5 linked regions of the Homo sapiens genome follow. The protein of the gene in region 1 purifies or fractionates together with the protein of each later gene. This does not show direct contact. Each region holds a gene or a part of one and is shown in the gene's direction. Other genes may lie near its edges.

Region 1 (3,520 bases):
TCATTATGAAGGATCCTTGCTTCGCCAAATGCCAGAACGCCCTGCAGCAAGTCACGGCCCGCCAGGTGAGGGCTCTCCACTGGACTGGGCCAGCTCTCTCCTGCTTTTCCCCATGCATGCCCACCTCACCACTGTCTGCCAGTACCAGTGATGGATGGTCTGGCCAGTGAGTGGCTGTGACCACACACCCTCCCCCGGGCCGCCTGTGGGGAGTGCACACACTTGGAAAGGAGCTGGTCAGCCCGCAGCTGTCCCACACAGCTCTTTGGTGGGGCCCAGGGACCCACACTGCTGTGAGCAGCACCAGATCCTAGCCTGGAGCTCAGGGGAGGTACTCCTGGTGGACATCCCTGGGGCAGGGTTTCCCCAGGTTCTGCGGCCAAGCAGCTCCGATGGGAACTACCTGGAGTTAGGTCAGGTCTCATAGGGCAGGGGCACAGCTTTCCATAAGACTGCCCTCGATTCAGGCACCTGTTGCAAGCCAGGGGTCCACCCACACATCTGAGCAACTGACTATGAATCCAAGGATTCCCACTCTCCCCTGAAGTTCAGTAATTTTCTAGAACGACCCATAGAACTCAGGAGATGACTATATGATTACAGTTTTATTATAAAAGATATAAATCACAGCCAACCCAAAAGAAGAGACCCCTAGTTTGAGGGCCCCAGATGTGAAGCTTGTGTCCTCAGGATGTGTCACCCTCCCAGCACGTCACTGTGTGTCGCCCGGGAGCTCCCCTGAGCTGCTAGCTCCAGTGTCCAGAGTTTGTATTGTGGTTTTATTAAGTAGGCAGGATGGAGTGAACCATTGGCCATGTGATCAAACTCAGTCGCCAGCCCCACTTTTGTCCTTGGAGGTTGGGAGGTCAGACTGACAGGCTCATGTCTCAAAGCCCCAACCTTCTAATCATGTGGCTGGCCTTTCTAGCAGGGCCAGACGCCATCCTGGAACTATCTACAGGCCCACCACGAGTCGTCACCTTAGCATAAAGTTAGGTATAGTCCAAGGGACCTCCCATAAATAACAAAGATGCTTTTGTCACATGGGAAAGTCCAGAAGCCAGGAGCTCCCTTCCTGGAACCGGCCACAAAGACCAACCAAATGCTTTGTACACAGCAGCTGCCCTGAGGTAGGAGGGCAGAGTTCATGAAGTTTCGGGGAGGTGAAATCCAATGAGGTGCCCCATCCAGATGTTGCCACCTGGCTCAGCACAGAGGTCAGAGTGAGGGTATAAAACACAATGGCATCATTTCCCCACTTAAAACCCTCCCATACCTGCCTGTCAAGCCACAGAGACCCACAGTCCTGCGTTATCTGGCCCTTTCCTCCTGTTTCAGTGAGTTCCAGGCACTCCAGCTTTCCTTCTGCGTCCCACTCTCATTGCGCCCGCGCCCGCCTCCGGGCCTTTGCGCTGGCCGCTCCTGCTGTCTGGAATGCCCTTCCCACAGAATGCTCCGCCGAGGGTTGTCCCCTCATCATTTAGGGTTCAGTCCAGATGTCTCCTGTTTTTGAGAGAGCTTTGGAGACCTCACCAGTCTCCCAATGACATTATCCTGTTTTCTAGCCTTGGTGGCATTTCTTTGGAATTCATTTTTTTTTTTTTTTTGTGACGGAGTCTGGCTCTGTCGCCCAGGCTGGAGTGCAGTGGCGCCATCTCGGCTCACTGCAAGCTCCGCCTCCCAGGTTCACGCCATTCTCCTGCCTCAGCCTCCCCAGTAGCTGGGACTACAGGCCCCCGCCACCACACCCGGCTAATTTTTTGTATTTTTTAGTAGAGACAGGGTTTCACCATGTTAGCCAGGATGGTCTCGATCTCCTGACCTCGTGATCCACCCGCCTCAGCCTCCCAAAGTGTTGGGATTACAGGCGTGAGCCACCACGCCCGGCCTGGAATTCATCTTTATTTCTTGGTTTGCTTGTCTAGGTTTTTGTTTTCTACCACTAGACTATGAGCCCCGCTAGAGTTAGGAGTGAGTCTGCCCCGCTCTCGGCAAGGCACAAATGGGTGCCAAATGATGCAGCAGGATGGCAATCTCCTTACCAGGGAAGGGGAAGAAACCCCCAAAAAGCATCAGACACTTTATCCTTTCCAAGCATTTGTGTCCCACACATACCACCTCACCCATGACTCCAGCAAATGCAAAAGAGGACTGTTCTCATCACAGTAATGTAGCTTCCAGATACTCTGTATGCATCAGGGATAGCTTCTTTCAGAGAGGGTCTATTTTATGATGCTATTTCTCTGCTCTAGGGTCGCCCCATTATACTGTGCTCCAAGGACGATACTGAAAGTTCCAAGTTTGCGTATAAGACAATTGAGCTGCCCCACACTGTGGACTGCCTCCAGGGCATCCTGAGCGTGATTCCGCTGCAGCTGCTGTCCTTCCACCTGGCTGTTCTCCGAGGATATGACGTGCGTCTAAAAACTGCACCTAACAGCAGAGAGGAGAGACATAACCCCAGAGTTCCTTTCTGTTCTTTAAATACTTGGAGTAAATAGTCATAGAGTAAATAATTTTATTTAAAGTAGCTTTCTTTTTTTTTTTTTTGAGATTGAGTCTCGCTCTGTCGCCCAGGCTGGAGGGCAGTGGCACAACCTCGGCTCACTGCAAGCTCCACCTCCTGGGTTCAAGCGATTCTCCTGCCTCAGCCTCCCGAGTAGCTGGGACTACAAGCACCCGCCACCATGCCTGGCTAATTTTTTGTATTTTTTGTAGAGACGGGGTTTCACCGTGTTAGCCAGGATGACCTTGATCTGACCTCGTGATCCACCTGCCTCAGCCTCCCAAAGTGCTGGGATTACAGGTGTGAGCCACCGCACCCGGCCCAGTAGAAGCGTACTTATGAACCATTCCTACCTTTCCTTCCCACTCCACCCTAAACAAATAAGTCCCATGGAATTCATATATATTCTTGCAAGAAAAGTTAATTTTTAACAGTACACACCAAGTTACCTGTGTTTAAAAGCATGAACCTTATTCTTTAAATCATGTTAACAGATCATGACACACATCAGGTGCACAGTAAATGTTTATTGAGGGACTAAACCTTATACGGTTAAATGAGGCTTCTGGACTAAGGAATCTGCCTCCAAGACGCAGGTCTCTAGGTTGGTGACCATGGTGAACATCTGTCTCTTGTTTTTAAGTACTCTGAAAATTGTCTGTGAGAGGTAGCATGTTGCTGAGATCTTTGGGGTCCTGAACAGTCACTTTCTTTCATTTTAGGTTGACTTCCCCAGAAATCTGGCCAAGTCTGTAACTGTGGAATGAGGCTGAGACCGTGACAAGACCATCACCACCTTTCATCTGATTCCAGACCTGTCCCAACAGCAGGGATGCTACATGGGAAGAGAAGTGGACATCCCACATGTTCTGCGTGCTCCTGTAGAGCTTGACAGCTTCCACGTGCCTTCTACCCAAGTGCTTTTGCTTACAGCAGATACTGTTTCTCTGTGTCCTGAAGTCGCCAGAGGAGAAGGGAATCATTGTTTACACATGGGGATCAGAGCAGACTTCT
Region 2 (2,957 bases), on another chromosome or scaffold:
TGTCAGTGACATCAGCACAGGTGGTTTGTGTTGAGGTTTCGCCTGGGGAGAACTCCAGTCACTTGTCCAGTCTGTGATCTGGTTGGGGGAGAGTCTAGAAAGCACAGACCCTGTGTGGGCTGAGCTCCTGCACTTGCCAGTTTGTTCCATTCTGACAAAGTGATACTGATGAGACAGGCCAGAAGCCGCAGAAGGGCCCTTTGATCTTGCTGCATGGAGTTAACAAGCTCTCTTTGCCTCATACACCCACCCTCTACAGTGTGGCTGCAAGAGTAGCTTCAGCTCTTTCTCCCTCTCTCTCCTTTTCTTCTTTTTTTCCCCCCTAGTTTTTCTGAATAGAGGTATTATGGCTACAGCTGTTTTCCCGAATTAACGAATGTCAGGGAGGTACTGAATATATATGATGGTTAGAAGATGATGTTGGGCTCAAAATGCACTACAGATCTTTGGTCTGCAGAAGCCCAATAAAAGTAACCATTTAAACAATGTGTCTTTGTTTTTTTAGCCCCTTCCAAATGACAAAACCTTACTCTACAATCCATTTCCTCCCACGAATGAATCAGATGTCATCCGGAGGCGCACAGCTCATGCTTTTAAAATTTCTAAGATATATAAGGTAAAACATCTTGTGTTGTTATTCTGGATAGTTGGTTCCTTTGTGATACCAAAATGTAATAAACTCCACAATCGGAAGATAAGAGCACCTTCAGTTTCCATGCAGAGAACCTGGCTTGTGGGAGACAAGTCACCTTTTTGAGGCTGGCTGTCCCTTGTATATGTTTTATTGTTCTTGCCTTAGTAGGTTAGAGGCAGGCACATCATACTTAACCAAAATGAAATGCGTAAGTAGTGAGAAATGTTGGCGCTGAGGGTAGAGTCTTTGTTGTCATGAGAGCTGGCTTTAAATTTTACTTGTTGGAGTGTTCCATAGGATAAATGTCAAGCAGGCTGGGCTTGGTAGCTCATACCTGTAATCCCAGCACTTTGGGAGGCCAAGGCAGGTGGATCTCCTCAGCCCAGGAATTCAAAACCAGCCTGGGCACCATGGTGAAACCCCATCACTATTAACAAAAAAAAAAAAAGGAGAGTTCTGTAAATTACTGATTACTCAAATGACTCAAATGTGATTAGCTTCTTGATGCATTTGTAGCTTGCCAGTTGTCAGTTGCCTTAGGCTGGGTATGGTGATTCACGCCTGTAATCTCAGTACTTTAGGAGGTTGAGGCTGGAGTTCAAGACCAGTCTGGGCAACATAGTGAGACCCTGTCTCTACAAAAAAAAAAAAAATATAAAAATTAGCTAGGTGTGGTGGAGCATGCCTGTAGTCCCAGCTGCTCAAGAGGCTGAGATGGGAGGATAGCTTGTGCTCAGGAGTTCAAGGCTGCGGTGAGTATGATTGCACCACTGCACTCCAGGCTGGGTAACATCGAGATTCTGTCTGAGAAAAAAAAGAACTTAGGCTTTAAAGTCCTTGCTTAACATTGATTCTTGAGATATAAGAAGCATAGATTTTCTATCCAGAGAAATGTAAAAAAATCCTGCTGAGACCTTTTATGAGTGAACTTAGTTAAAAGCTCCCAATCTTGGCCGGGCGCAGTGGCTCACGCCTGTAATCCCAGCACTTTGGGAGGCCAAGGTGGGCGGATCACGAGTTCAGGAGATCGAGACCATCCTGGCTAACACGGTGAAACCCCATCTCTACTAAAAATACAAAAAATTAGCCGGGCGTGGTGGTGGGCACCTGTAGTCCCAGCTACCCGGGAGGCTGAGGCGGGAGAATGGCGTGAACCCGGGAGGCGGAGCTTGCCGTGAGCCGAGATTGCGCCACTGCACTCCAGCCTGGGCGGCAGAGCGAGACTGTCTCAAAAAAAAAAAAAAAAAAAAAAAAGGCTCCCAATCTTGAGCCAGGCGCAGCCGTGCACACCTACCTATTGTCCCAGCTACTCAGGAGACTGAGGCAGGATGATTGCCCAGGAGTTCAGGGCTTCAGTGCACGTTGATCATGTCTATGAATGACCACTGCTCTCCTGCCTAGGCAACATAGCAAGATCTCTAAAAAATAAAAAAAAAAGCTTTTATGCATTCCAACTATTTTGAGTCCCAGGGCAGGAAAGATTGTCAAGAAATTTAAATCATTTGAGCCTTGAACTAGGCTAACCTTTTAGCTTAGATGGTGTCTACCTACAGTCAGTTCTTTCAGGACTAGCCCTGGATCCTAAGTCCTGATAGAATAATTATCATCCCTCTGCAGCCTCTACTCTTCATGGATCTTTTGGATGAAAGAACACTCGTGGCAGTAGAACGGCCTCTGGATGACATCATTGCTCAGCTCCCACCACCCATTAAAAAGAAGAAATTTGGAACCTAAAACAGGGCACTGTCTGTGTCCTTCCTTGAACTGTCTACCCTGTTGCTTTTCACAAATCATGGTAATAAAACAAGTTATTCTTGAGGACTAGTCATTATAAATGTTTTCTTCCAAAATAATGGACAGTCATTTCCCTTCATTGAATGAAAATGAATGGAAATTCCAAATGAGGTATTTGTATTGGGGATAATGTGCTCAGTAGCTACAAACTCATCTAATGTTGATTGAGTCCTGCTTATTCTGTAGGCCGCAATCTCAGAAGAAAAGATATTTGTGTTCTGTTCCCTATTACATGCCTAAGGCTTCAGAGAGCTGATAGCCTTCACTTCCTGCCAGCCCCCAGCCCATGGAACTGCGTAGGAATCTGCCCATCCTCGCCCTGGAGGGCAGAGGACCGTAATTACTTACCCAGGATAGCCTGACCACTAATAACCATAATCAGCCTTAGAGTTCAAGGAAGAATTTCAACTCCAGCATTATAAGGGAGTGCTCCATCTAAAAAATAGATGCCTTTGACCTTTGACAGTCAGCCGTTAATTTTATTTAAAAGTAAAAAAAGCTTGGGTTATCAGTCCCATTAACTGCCTTT
Region 3 (3,520 bases), on another chromosome or scaffold:
CGGATAGACCACATTTTGTTGATCCATTCATCCACCTGTAAACACTTGGGTTGCTTCTGCCTTTTGGCTACTATTGTGAACAGCGCTGCTGTGAACATGGGTGTGTAAAGTTCTGTTTGAGTCTCTGCTTTACTTCTTTTGGGAATATACTTAGAAGGGGAATTTCTGGATCCTATGGCAATTCTGTTTTTAAGTTTTCGAGAACTCGCCATACCGTTTGGTGCAGTGGCTACACCATTTTACAGTCCCACCAGTGATGCACAGGGGGTTCAGTTTTTCCACATCCTTGCCAACACTTGTTTTGTTTTTTTTTTAATCATGGACATCCTAATGGTTGTGAAGTGGTATCTCATTGGGGTTTTGTTTTGACTTGCATTTCTCTGATGACGTACTAATGGTGAGCATCTTAATGTGCTTATTGGCCATTTGTGTATTTTCTTGAAGAAATGTCTTTGGAGAAATGTCTGTTGAGCTCTTTTGCCCATTTTTTAATTAGGTTTTTTTGTATTTGAGTTATAAGAGTTCTTGATATATTCTGGATATCCATTTCTTAACAGATATGTGATTTGCAAATATTTAATTCTGTGGGTTGCCTTTTTTGCAGCTACTTTTAAGAACTAAACACAATTAATCTTTGTTAAGGAAAATGATTTGTTGTGAATATATAGATACGAAACAGTTAAATCATGCAGATACGGGTTTTTCTCCCAACAACTAGCTTCTTTAAGTAGTTATTTAATATAAAGTGCCTTGTATACCCCGATAGTAGTGATGGAAGCAGAAAAGAAAGGAAAAGGAAAAAAACCCTTAGTTTTATAAATATATCATCATTACGATAAACTTTGCTTTTGTTTTTATACAAATTAATAATATAGCTGTGTCCTTGTCAGAATTTTATTGATTAATGTTAAAATTAGATCTTCTAGAACAGTACTGTCCAATAGAAACATAATGGAATCCACTAGTCTGAGCTACATGTGTAACCTATAATTTTATGGCAGCTACATTTTAAAAGTAAAAGTTGCAATTAATTTTAACAAATTTTTAACCCAATATATAAAAAGTATAATTTCAATGGTAGCCAGTATAAAGAATGATTAACGAATGATTTTCTTCTTCTTTTTGCAACATTATACTTCCAAAGTCCAGTGTGTTTTATACTCACTGCACATCTTCTTTCAAATTAGTGGCATTTGAGGCCAGGTGTGGTGGCTCACACCTGTAATCCCAGTACTTTGGGAGGCCAAGGCAGGCGGATCACTAGAGGTCAGGAGTTTGAGACCAGCCTGGCCAACATAGTGAAACCCTGTCTCTACTAAAAATACAAAAATTAGCACATAGTAAAAATACAAAAATACAATACAGGCATGGTGGTACATGCCTGTAATTCCAGCTACACGGGAGGCTGAGGCAGAATCGCTTGAACCAGGGAGACGGACGTTGCAGTGAGCCAAGATGGTGGCACTGCACCCTAGCCTGGGTGAGGGAGTGAGACTCTGTCTCAAAAACAACAACAACAACCACAAATTAATGGCATTTGAAATGCCCAGTAGCCACGTGGCTTGTGGCCTCCATGCTGCACGGTGTCGCTCAAGGCTGTGAGCTCTTTGTATCCCTCGTGTCTCAGCACCTAGAACATCAGTAGATGACCTTTCAATGTTTCTTGAAGAAAAGTAGAGTTGTTTTCTTCATTTCAACATTGTGTGTAATAATGTGTAAATATGTTTTTCTTCGTAGTACAATAAATTTAAATGCCGCATTCTGAATGAGAAAGTTAACACTGCAACTACCACCGTGTACAGGTTTGTGTCCACACATGGTAAACGCTGCTCAGTGGTAAACTTGAAGGTGTTAGCAGTAGAGGCCGAGTTTGTTTTCTGGTTGGAGATCGATTTTTCAAGTTGTGTAGTTGATAATCTACCGTAGTTACAATCTTCAAAATGTTTTCACTAAAGAGAAATGATTATTTTCCCCTTTTTAGTAATCAGGACAGTACTGAGACCCATATTTTGTTTCCTGGGTGTTAGCTATAACAGGATTTTTCTCCATGTGAGTGATACTGTTGGGAAAGGAGTTTCTATTCTGTCCTTCCACGTTCTTATTAATGTGGCAGTGGGGGCCATTACAAGCCATCTCCTCGGCAGTGATTCTCTGCCTCATACTTACTGTCCAGAGTGCAAGTGTAGAAGAGTCTGCCCCATTGTCCAGAGTCCAAGTGTACAGTCTTCATGCATTAGCAGGATACTCATGATGAGACCAAAAGAAAATACTGGGAAACAAAGGCAGGATCAAATGTAAGAGGAGACAAGTGAAGTTAATACCAGAATCACTTAGCTCTGTTCATTTAACCTCAGGTTCCTGAGCACCTTTTTCTTTATTCGTGTGTATACGCCTTATATGTCATTGCTGTTCCCCTTTCCGTGTGTTCCGGCCATCTGGGTGCTGCTAGGACTATCACAGTACCGCCTTAGAAGACCTGGTATTTATTTAATTATAACCACAGATATTCTCCCTCATGGTACTTACTTTCGACAGTCAAGGACTTATGGTTCTCTGGTTTAATTGTACTGTAAGTAAAATCATATCCCCTTTGTGCAAAGCTATGCACGGTGCATTTCTTAAAGCTTAAAAATAAATGAAAATGTAGAAAACAGGCCAAGTTTTAAATTTCTGGCTTCTAATGCTTGAGCTCTTGGGTTTGAGAACCTTACTTACGTCAACATTGACACTTTTTGTAGTTTTTCAATTTGAATGGCTTGTATTTAATTTTTGAAAAAAAAATAAAGCTTTTCTTTTATGGCTTTCTTTTTTTTTTTTTTTTTAATTTTTTGAGATGGAGTCTTGCACTGTTGCCCGGGCTGGAGTGCGATGGCGCGACCTCGGTTCACCGCAACCTCTGCCTCCCAGGTTCAAGTGATTCTCCTGCCTCAGCCTCCCAAGTAGCTGGGATTACAGGCGCCCACCACCACGCCCAGCTAATTTTTTATATTTTTTATTAGAGACAGGGTTTCACTATGTTGGCGAGGCTGGTCTCGAATGCCTGACCTCGTGATCCACCCGCCTCGGCCTCCCAAAGTGCTGGGATTACAGGTGTGAGCCACCACACCCGGCCCTGTGACTTTCTATGTAAAGATTAGAGTATTGAAGCCTTTCATGCTAATTTGGCATTCCTTCCCTTCATCTGAGTGTTGTTTACAAGCTCTCTCCCTAGAGAACAATACACAAAGACTGACCATTGAGAGAGATGACATTTTCGTGTTTGCCACTCTGTAAGCCAGTCCCTTTTTGTATTCATTGTAATTTTTAAGTTTTTAATCAGAGAATTGCCTAGTTTCTTTCAGAAGATGTTCTGTGGTTTTTGAATCTAGAGGGCAGAGTGGACTCTGAGGCTAGATGAATCACCTCTCTCCTTCACCCTAAATTAAAAATGGCATTGCTACATATAAATAAGTGAAGCTCTACCTAAAACATAGGATATTATGGCTTATAATGAATAGTCCAGAACACTGTAACTGTGCCT
Region 4 (3,520 bases), on another chromosome or scaffold:
CACACACCTGTAGTACCAGCTACTCAGGAGGCTAAGGTGGGACAATTGCTTTGAGCCTGGGAGGCAGAGGTTGCAGTGAGCCAAGATCACGCCTCTGCACCCCAGCCTGTGTGATAGAGTGAGACCCTGTCTCAAAAAAAAAAAAAAAATCGTATCGTTCTGGAGGCTAGGAGGTTTAAGGTTGAAGGGCACAGCTGGTGAGGGGCTGCATCTGCATCTTATGTTATCCCAGGGCGAAAGGTGGAAGGGCAGGAGAGGGAAGGGGGTCAAATTCATCCTTTCATCAGGAACCTGCTCCTGAGATAACAAACCCTCTCCCAGGATAACAGCATTAATGTGCTCACAAGGGCAGAGCTCTCGTGGCCTAATCAGCTCTTTTCTTTCTTTTTTTTTTTTGAGATGGAGTTTTGCTCTTGTTGCCCAGGCTGGAGTATAATGGCGCAGTCTTGGCTCACCACAACCTCCGCCTCCCGGGTTCAAGCAATTATCCTGCCTCAGCCTCCTGAGTAGCTGAGATTACAGGCATGCACCACCACGTCCAGCTAATTTTGTATTTTTAGTAGAGACGGGGTTTCTCCATGTTGGTCAGGCTGGTTTCGAACTCCCAACCTCAGGTGATCTGCCCACCTTAGCCTCCCAAAGTGCTGGGATTACAGGCGTGAGCCACCGCACCTGGCCTAATCACCTCTTAAAGGCCCCACCCTTAACACTGTTGCATGTGGGGACTAAGTTTCCAGCACATGCTTTTTGGGGGACACATTGAAACCATAGCACTTCATTTCTCTATTTATGCTCATTTCTCAGCTATGTTGACCTTTGCAATTGAGGAAGTTTATTTTTTAGTGAAGTTGTGCATGATGCCATTGTTTTCAGTTTCCCCAGCAGTGACGAGAAAACCCTGACCATCCCTGTTTTAGAATACAGATTCTACCAAAACTAGTAGTTTTGGTACTAGTAGTTTGGGATACTCATTGCAGGACTTTTGATGATGACCTTCACTGTAGAATAGTAGGAGATGGGGCAGCACTGTCCTCAGCCAGTAGAGATTTCTGTAAGAACCCAGGACTCTCTTCCTAGAGTTGGGCCTCCACGCGAGCCGGAATGGAGACCCATGGGCCTGGTGGCCTGAGTATGAAGCACTTGGTTTGTGCTCTCGGTGGTAGTGATGGTGGTGTTGGCTCAGCTCCCATTTCTCATGGCATTTTTTTCTTCACTTTCTTTCAGTATTTAGGTCAGTTAACGTCCATACCAGGATACCTGAATCCCTCCAGTAGGACTGAAATCCTGCATTTCATAGACAATGCAAAGGTAACCCTATCCTCTTAACCCTGTGCACTAGCCCTCAGCCCCCACCAGCCCTTGGTCCCTGTACTCTTGGCCTCGTGGCTGTGAGGAATGAGCCAGTCCCATCACATTATGGGTACACTTGGCTCTTGGCCATAAAGACTATTCCTTAGTATGGACATTAAGTTGATTCTCGACACTTGCTCCATGTGATTTTGGGCTGTTTCCAAAATTTACACTTTCAAGATATTTCAAACCATGTGCCGTAAGTCTGAATCTGAAGGCAGTTCCAGAAGAATCTCCCAAATGGTTTGAACACATTGGTGTCCCTGGAATAAGCACTGTTCTGAGGGGAATAACACTGACCTTATTCACTCAGCATTTGTCACATGTGTGACATCGGCCAGCACAATATTCTCAGGAGAAGCGCCCCATGCCGGTTGACAGCTGAGTCTGTATTTCTGATGCCCTGTGGTTCCTTCCAGAGAGCCCACCAGCTTCCGGGACACTTGACTCAGGAGCACGATGCTGTGCTCAGCCTGTCTGCGTACAACGTCAAGCTGGCCTGGAGGGACGGGGAGGATATCATCCTCAGGGTGCCCATCCATGACATCGCCGCCGTCTCCTATGTTCGGGATGACGCTGCACACCTGGTGGTCCTGAAGACAGGTACAGGAGGTCAGGGGTCAGGAGGGTCCTTGTCCTAAGGAGTACATGTGTGAATTTTATGAAGTTCTGGAGACAGTTTTTGCAGCTTCGTGTTGGGTGCTGCTGTTTGTCACGACCAATAATTGTCTTTCCTGTCTCTGAGATCAGCCAGAAGAGGGCTTGAGATCAGTTACCAGACACTGGGGGTGACTGTCACACTAAGAGCCTTTGGGGACTCAATAATACTGGGATACAGTATTTAGGACTGGTATCCTGTTCCTCTGCCCGGTGGGGCTCCTATTGACTCCCTCTGGGTACAGTGGAGTTGCCCCTCTGCCCAGGTGTGGTGGAGCCTAGAGAGAGTGCAGTGGATAGGGACCTCACCTCAGCTTGACTGATATTTTGAGCTCTGCACAGTGTCCTCAAACCTGGGACAGAAAAGATGAGACCCAGACCTCCCAGGAGCTCTTGGTCATAGAGGTTACTCTCTGTGTGTCCTTGCCGTCTGCTGCTTTCACAATGGGATAGAATTGGGCAGAATTGGGCAGAATTGGGCAGAATGTTATTTTTGGCTGTGGTGAGTACAGTGCTGCCTCACTGGACCCAAGCCCAAGCTGCCCGTTAATTTCCAGCAGCTTCCAGCCCAGGCATTCAGGCCACTGAGGATGAGGGGAGAGACCATGGTTCGCCCTACCTGTATTTTGCCCCTCCCAGTCCTGAGTTTCGAGGCTGGTGTTGCAGTGGGGACAGTATCCTGGGCTCCTTGGATCTCTGCTGGTGACTGGGTTGATCCCAAAGCCTTTCATTTCCAGAGGGCCAGTGGCAGGGTGTGAAGGGGTCACAGTGGGTCTGCCTAGACCACACACTGTGTTTTAGGTAGCAGAGAGGGGAATTTGTTGTTCCACTTAAGGTCAGTAGTTCATTGAGAATCTGGCGAGTGTGTTCATTATTGACCCCTTGAGCCATGAAGCTGCCAGCTTGAGTGCGCTCTTGAGAGCAGTCCACTGAAAGCCTGTGAGTCTAGATGCTTGGGGTTGCTGTGGTCATAAACTACACAGGGAACACTGGCGGGGTTTATGAAGGTGGCTGTTGCTCTGTTTTGTTCTCTGTGTAGCAGTAGCTTAGACTTGCGTACACCCTCCCCAACGCAGGCACACACCACACCTACACACATGTACATTACTCACCCTATCTGGCTTAGAAGGCTGGGTTGGTGGCTCCTTCCAGCCATACTATCCGACACCATGGTGACCCTCCTGTTTTTCTACCTTTGGACCCTGCGGGAGGCCTTAGGCCTGGGACATCCTTAGGGACAAGGAGTGAGGAGACTGGTTTCTGACTCGCTTCTTGCAGGTGTTTCAAGCTGGTAGGGAGGGGAGATAGGCTCCTCCCTTTATTTCTTCTGCTGCATGACAGTTTCTCAGCTTTAATTATTAGAACACATTGCTAAAGGAAATGGATGACAGATTTTTTTTAATGGAGAGAGAATGAGCGCCATAGGAGAAACTTTCCAAAATTAGATGAAAAACAGGACTTCTGGTCTTTGAGAGAACTTTTGATTTAAAGGAAGAGAGTGAATCCCTGTGTC
Region 5 (3,377 bases), about 23 Mb from region 1:
AATAATACAACATGCTTATTCATCTCGATATTAATGGTTTTTCCACTGAACTGAAACATCAACGGATTGAGCTCCTATTATATCCAGGGTCTGGGCTGCACTTAGGCGTTACAGAAGTGAGCAAGAAACCCAGTATCTGTTCTCAGCATTTCTGTAAACAGCCCAGGCATTTTCAACTTTAGTTTCCTATTAGAATCACCCAGGCACTGAAGTGTACTAATGCAGGGCCAACCCCAGAGCAACTGAATCAGAATCTCTGGGGATGAAGCCTAAGCATAGAAATTGTTCTAAAAGCTCTCCAGGTGATTCTAGTGAACAGTCAGGGCTGAGAACTGCTAGTCTGTTATAGACTCCTGTCTTGACCTTCGTTCCTGATTATACACACCCACACATCCATTTCAAATAGGTATGGCTTACATAACTTACTAGATTTTAGACTTTTAGTGATGTTTGGCACATGAATGGAATACAATATATTTGGATTACAAAAATGATTCTGGGCTAGGTGCTGTGGCTTACGCCTATAAGCCCAGCACTTTGGGAGGCTGAGGTGGGAGGATCACATGAGCCCAGGAGTTCAAGACCAGCCTGGGCAACATGATGAGACCTCTTCTCTACAAAAAAATGGAAACATTAGGTGGAAGGATTGCTGGAGCACAGGAGATGAAGGCTGCAATGAGCCATGATTGTGCCACTGCATTCCCACCTGGGTGACAGAGAAAGACCCAGCATCAAACAAAACAAAACAAAAACCTCTGTCCATTGAATGCTATCTAAAGCATTAATAATTTTTTTTTTTTTTTTTTGAGACGGAGTCTGGCTCTGTCACCCAGGCTGGAGTGCAGTGGCACAACCTCGGCTCACTATAACCTCTGCTTCTCGGGTTCAAGCGATTCTCTGCATTAGCCTCCCAAGTAGCTGGGATTACAGGTGCATGCCACCACGCTGGCTAATTTTTTGTATGTTTAGTAGAGACGGGGTTTCACTATGTTGGCCAGGCTGGTCTCGAACTCCTGACCTCGTGATCTGCCAGGCTCAGCCTCCCAAAGTGCTGGGATTACAGGCGTGAGCCACGGCGCCCGGCCCATTTTTTGAAAATCTAAATGTGTACATAATTGCAGACATCTTGATACTTCACCTAAACTTCAGCCTGCACCTCCGAGAAATAAAAATATTCTCTTAGCTATCACAATGCTGTTGTTATACCTAAGAAAATTAAAATTAATGGACATTTTCTCAATTGTTTCCCCATAGTATTTTATTGCTATTTCTTGGCTTTTCCACTTGTTCAGCATCTGATCAAAGATCATGCACTATATTTAGTTGCTGTCTCTTTGGGAAAGCCTATTCTCTTAACTCTATTCCGTGTTACCTGGGAAATGCTTAACTCAACCGCAACACTTTATTTCCACAGCCTCATCTCTTTGGCCAACCTCCCTCCCTCAGGATTGGCAAATGCAGTAGCAGAGGGAATTCGCTCAGAAGAAAACATCTATACCATTGAAGAGAACGTATATGAAGTGGAGGAGCCCAATGAGTATTATTGCTATGTCAGCAGCAGGCAGCAACCCTCACAACCTTTGGGTTGTCGCTTTGCAATGCCATAGATCCAACCACCTTATTTTTGAGCTTGGTGTTTTGTCTTTTTCAGAAACTATGAGCTGTGTCACCTGACTGGTTTTGGAGGTTCTGTCCACTGCTATGGAGCAGAGTTTTCCCATTTTCAGAAGATAATGACTCACATGGGAATTGAACTGGGACCTGCACTGAACTTAAACAGGCATGTCATTGCCTCTGTATTTAAGCCAACAGAGTTACCCAACCCAGAGACTGTTAATCATGGATGTTAGAGCTCAAACGGGCTTTTATATACACTAGGAATTCTTGACGTGGGGTCTCTGGAGCTCCAGGAAATTCGGGCACATCATATGTCCATGAAACTTCAGATAAACTAGGGAAAACTGGGTGCTGAGGTGAAAGCATAACTTTTTTGGCACAGAAAGTCTAAAGGGGCCACTGATTTTCAAAGAGATCTGTGATCCCTTTTTGTTTTTTGTTTTTGAGATGGAGTCTTGCTCTGTTGCCCAGGCTGGAGTGCAATGGCACAATCTCGGCTCACTGCAAGCTCCGCCTCCTGGGTTCAAGCGATTCTCCTGCCTCAGCCTCCTGAGTGGCTGGGATTACAGGCATGCACCACCATGCCCAGCTAATTTGTTGTATTTTTAGTAGAGACAGGGTTTCACCATGTTGGCCAGTGTGGTCTCAAACTCCTGACCTCATGATTTGCCTGCCTCGGCCTCCCAAAGCACTGGGATTACAGGCGTGAGCCACCACATCCAGCCAGTGATCCTTAAAAGATTAAGAGATGACTGGACCAGGTCTACCTTGATCTTGAAGATTCCCTTGGAATGTTGAGATTTAGGCTTATTTGAGCACTGCCTGCCCAACTGTCAGTGCCAGTGCATAGCCCTTCTTTTGTCTCCCTTATGAAGACTGCCCTGCAGGGCTGAGATGTGGCAGGAGCTCCCAGGGAAAAACGAAGTGCATTTGATTGGTGTGTATTGGCCAAGTTTTGCTTGTTGTGTGCTTGAAAGAAAATATCTCTGACCAACTTCTGTATTCGTGGACCAAACTGAAGCTATATTTTTCACAGAAGAAGAAGCAGTGACGGGGACACAAATTCTGTTGCCTGGTGGAAAGAAGGCAAAGGCCTTCAGCAATCTATATTACCAGCGCTGGATCCTTTGACAGAGAGTGGTCCCTAAACTTAAATTTCAAGACGGTATAGGCTTGATCTGTCTTGCTTATTGTTGCCCCCTGCGCCTAGCACAATTCTGACACACAATTGGAACTTACTAAAAATTTTTTTTTACTGTTTTTTGTTTGTTTGTTTGTTTTTTGAGATAGAATCTCGCTCTGTCTGAGTTCATTGTAGATTCTGGATATTAGCCCTTTGTCAGATGAGTAGGTTGCGAAAATTTTCTCCCATTTTATAGGTTGCCTGTTCACTCTGATGGTAGTTTCTTTTGCTGTGCAGAAGCTCTTTAGTTTAATTAGATCCCATTTGTCAATTTTGGCTTTTGTGGCCATTGCTTTTGGTGTTTTAGACATGAAGTCCTTGCCCATGCCTATGTCCTGAATGGTAATGTCTAGGTTTTCTTCTAGGGTTTTTAGGGTTTTAGGTCTAACGTTTAAGTCTTTAATCCATCTTGAATTAATTTTTGTATAAGGTGTAAGGAAGGGATCCAGTTTCAGCTTTCTACATATGGCTAGCCAGTTTTCCCAGCACCATTTATTAAATAGGGAATCCTTTCCCCATTGCTTGTTTTTCTCAGGTTTGTCAAAGATCAGATAGTTGTAGATATGCGGCATTATTT

The links.
Region 2: the proteins of GFPT2 (region 1) and UTP4 purify together in Homo sapiens (co-immunoprecipitation; one large-scale study listed by IntAct). This does not show direct contact.
Region 3: the proteins of GFPT2 (region 1) and TARS3 fractionate together in Homo sapiens (co-fractionation; one large-scale study listed by BioGRID). This does not show direct contact.
Region 4: the proteins of GFPT2 (region 1) and CCM2 purify together in Homo sapiens (co-immunoprecipitation; one large-scale study listed by IntAct). This does not show direct contact.
Region 5: the proteins of GFPT2 (region 1) and HAVCR2 purify together in Homo sapiens (co-immunoprecipitation; one large-scale study listed by IntAct). This does not show direct contact.

What each region holds. Positions count from the first base shown.
Region 1 is NC_000005.10:180,301,317-180,304,836, reverse strand, and holds part of GFPT2 (glutamine--fructose-6-phosphate aminotransferase [isomerizing] 2), read left to right. Parts: coding exon 1-65; intron 66-2,252; coding exon 2,253-2,414; intron 2,415-3,228; coding exon 3,229-3,273; 3' UTR 3,274-3,520. UniProt on the Homo sapiens protein: Controls the flux of glucose into the hexosamine pathway. Most likely involved in regulating the availability of precursors for N- and O-linked glycosylation of proteins.
Region 2 is NC_000016.10:69,166,570-69,169,526, forward strand, and holds the end of UTP4 (U3 small nucleolar RNA-associated protein 4 homolog), read left to right. Parts: intron 1-505; coding exon 506-616; intron 617-2,251; coding exon 2,252-2,368; 3' UTR 2,369-2,452; downstream 2,453-2,957. UniProt on the Homo sapiens protein: Ribosome biogenesis factor. Involved in nucleolar processing of pre-18S ribosomal RNA. Part of the small subunit (SSU) processome, first precursor of the small eukaryotic ribosomal subunit.
Region 3 is NC_000015.10:101,703,965-101,707,484, reverse strand, and holds part of TARS3 (threonine--tRNA ligase 2, cytoplasmic), read left to right. Parts: intron 1-1,737; coding exon 1,738-1,802; intron 1,803-3,520. UniProt on the Homo sapiens protein: Catalyzes the attachment of threonine to tRNA(Thr) in a two-step reaction: threonine is first activated by ATP to form Thr-AMP and then transferred to the acceptor end of tRNA(Thr).
Region 4 is NC_000007.14:45,062,694-45,066,213, forward strand, and holds part of CCM2 (cerebral cavernous malformations 2 protein), read left to right. Parts: intron 1-1,224; coding exon 1,225-1,308; intron 1,309-1,769; coding exon 1,770-1,953; intron 1,954-3,520. UniProt on the Homo sapiens protein: Component of the CCM signaling pathway which is a crucial regulator of heart and vessel formation and integrity. May act through the stabilization of endothelial cell junctions. May function as a scaffold protein for MAP2K3-MAP3K3 signaling.
Region 5 is NC_000005.10:157,085,332-157,088,708, reverse strand, and holds the end of HAVCR2 (hepatitis A virus cellular receptor 2 precursor), read left to right. Parts: intron 1-1,414; coding exon 1,415-1,607; 3' UTR 1,608-2,877; downstream 2,878-3,377. UniProt on the Homo sapiens protein: Cell surface receptor implicated in modulating innate and adaptive immune responses. Generally accepted to have an inhibiting function.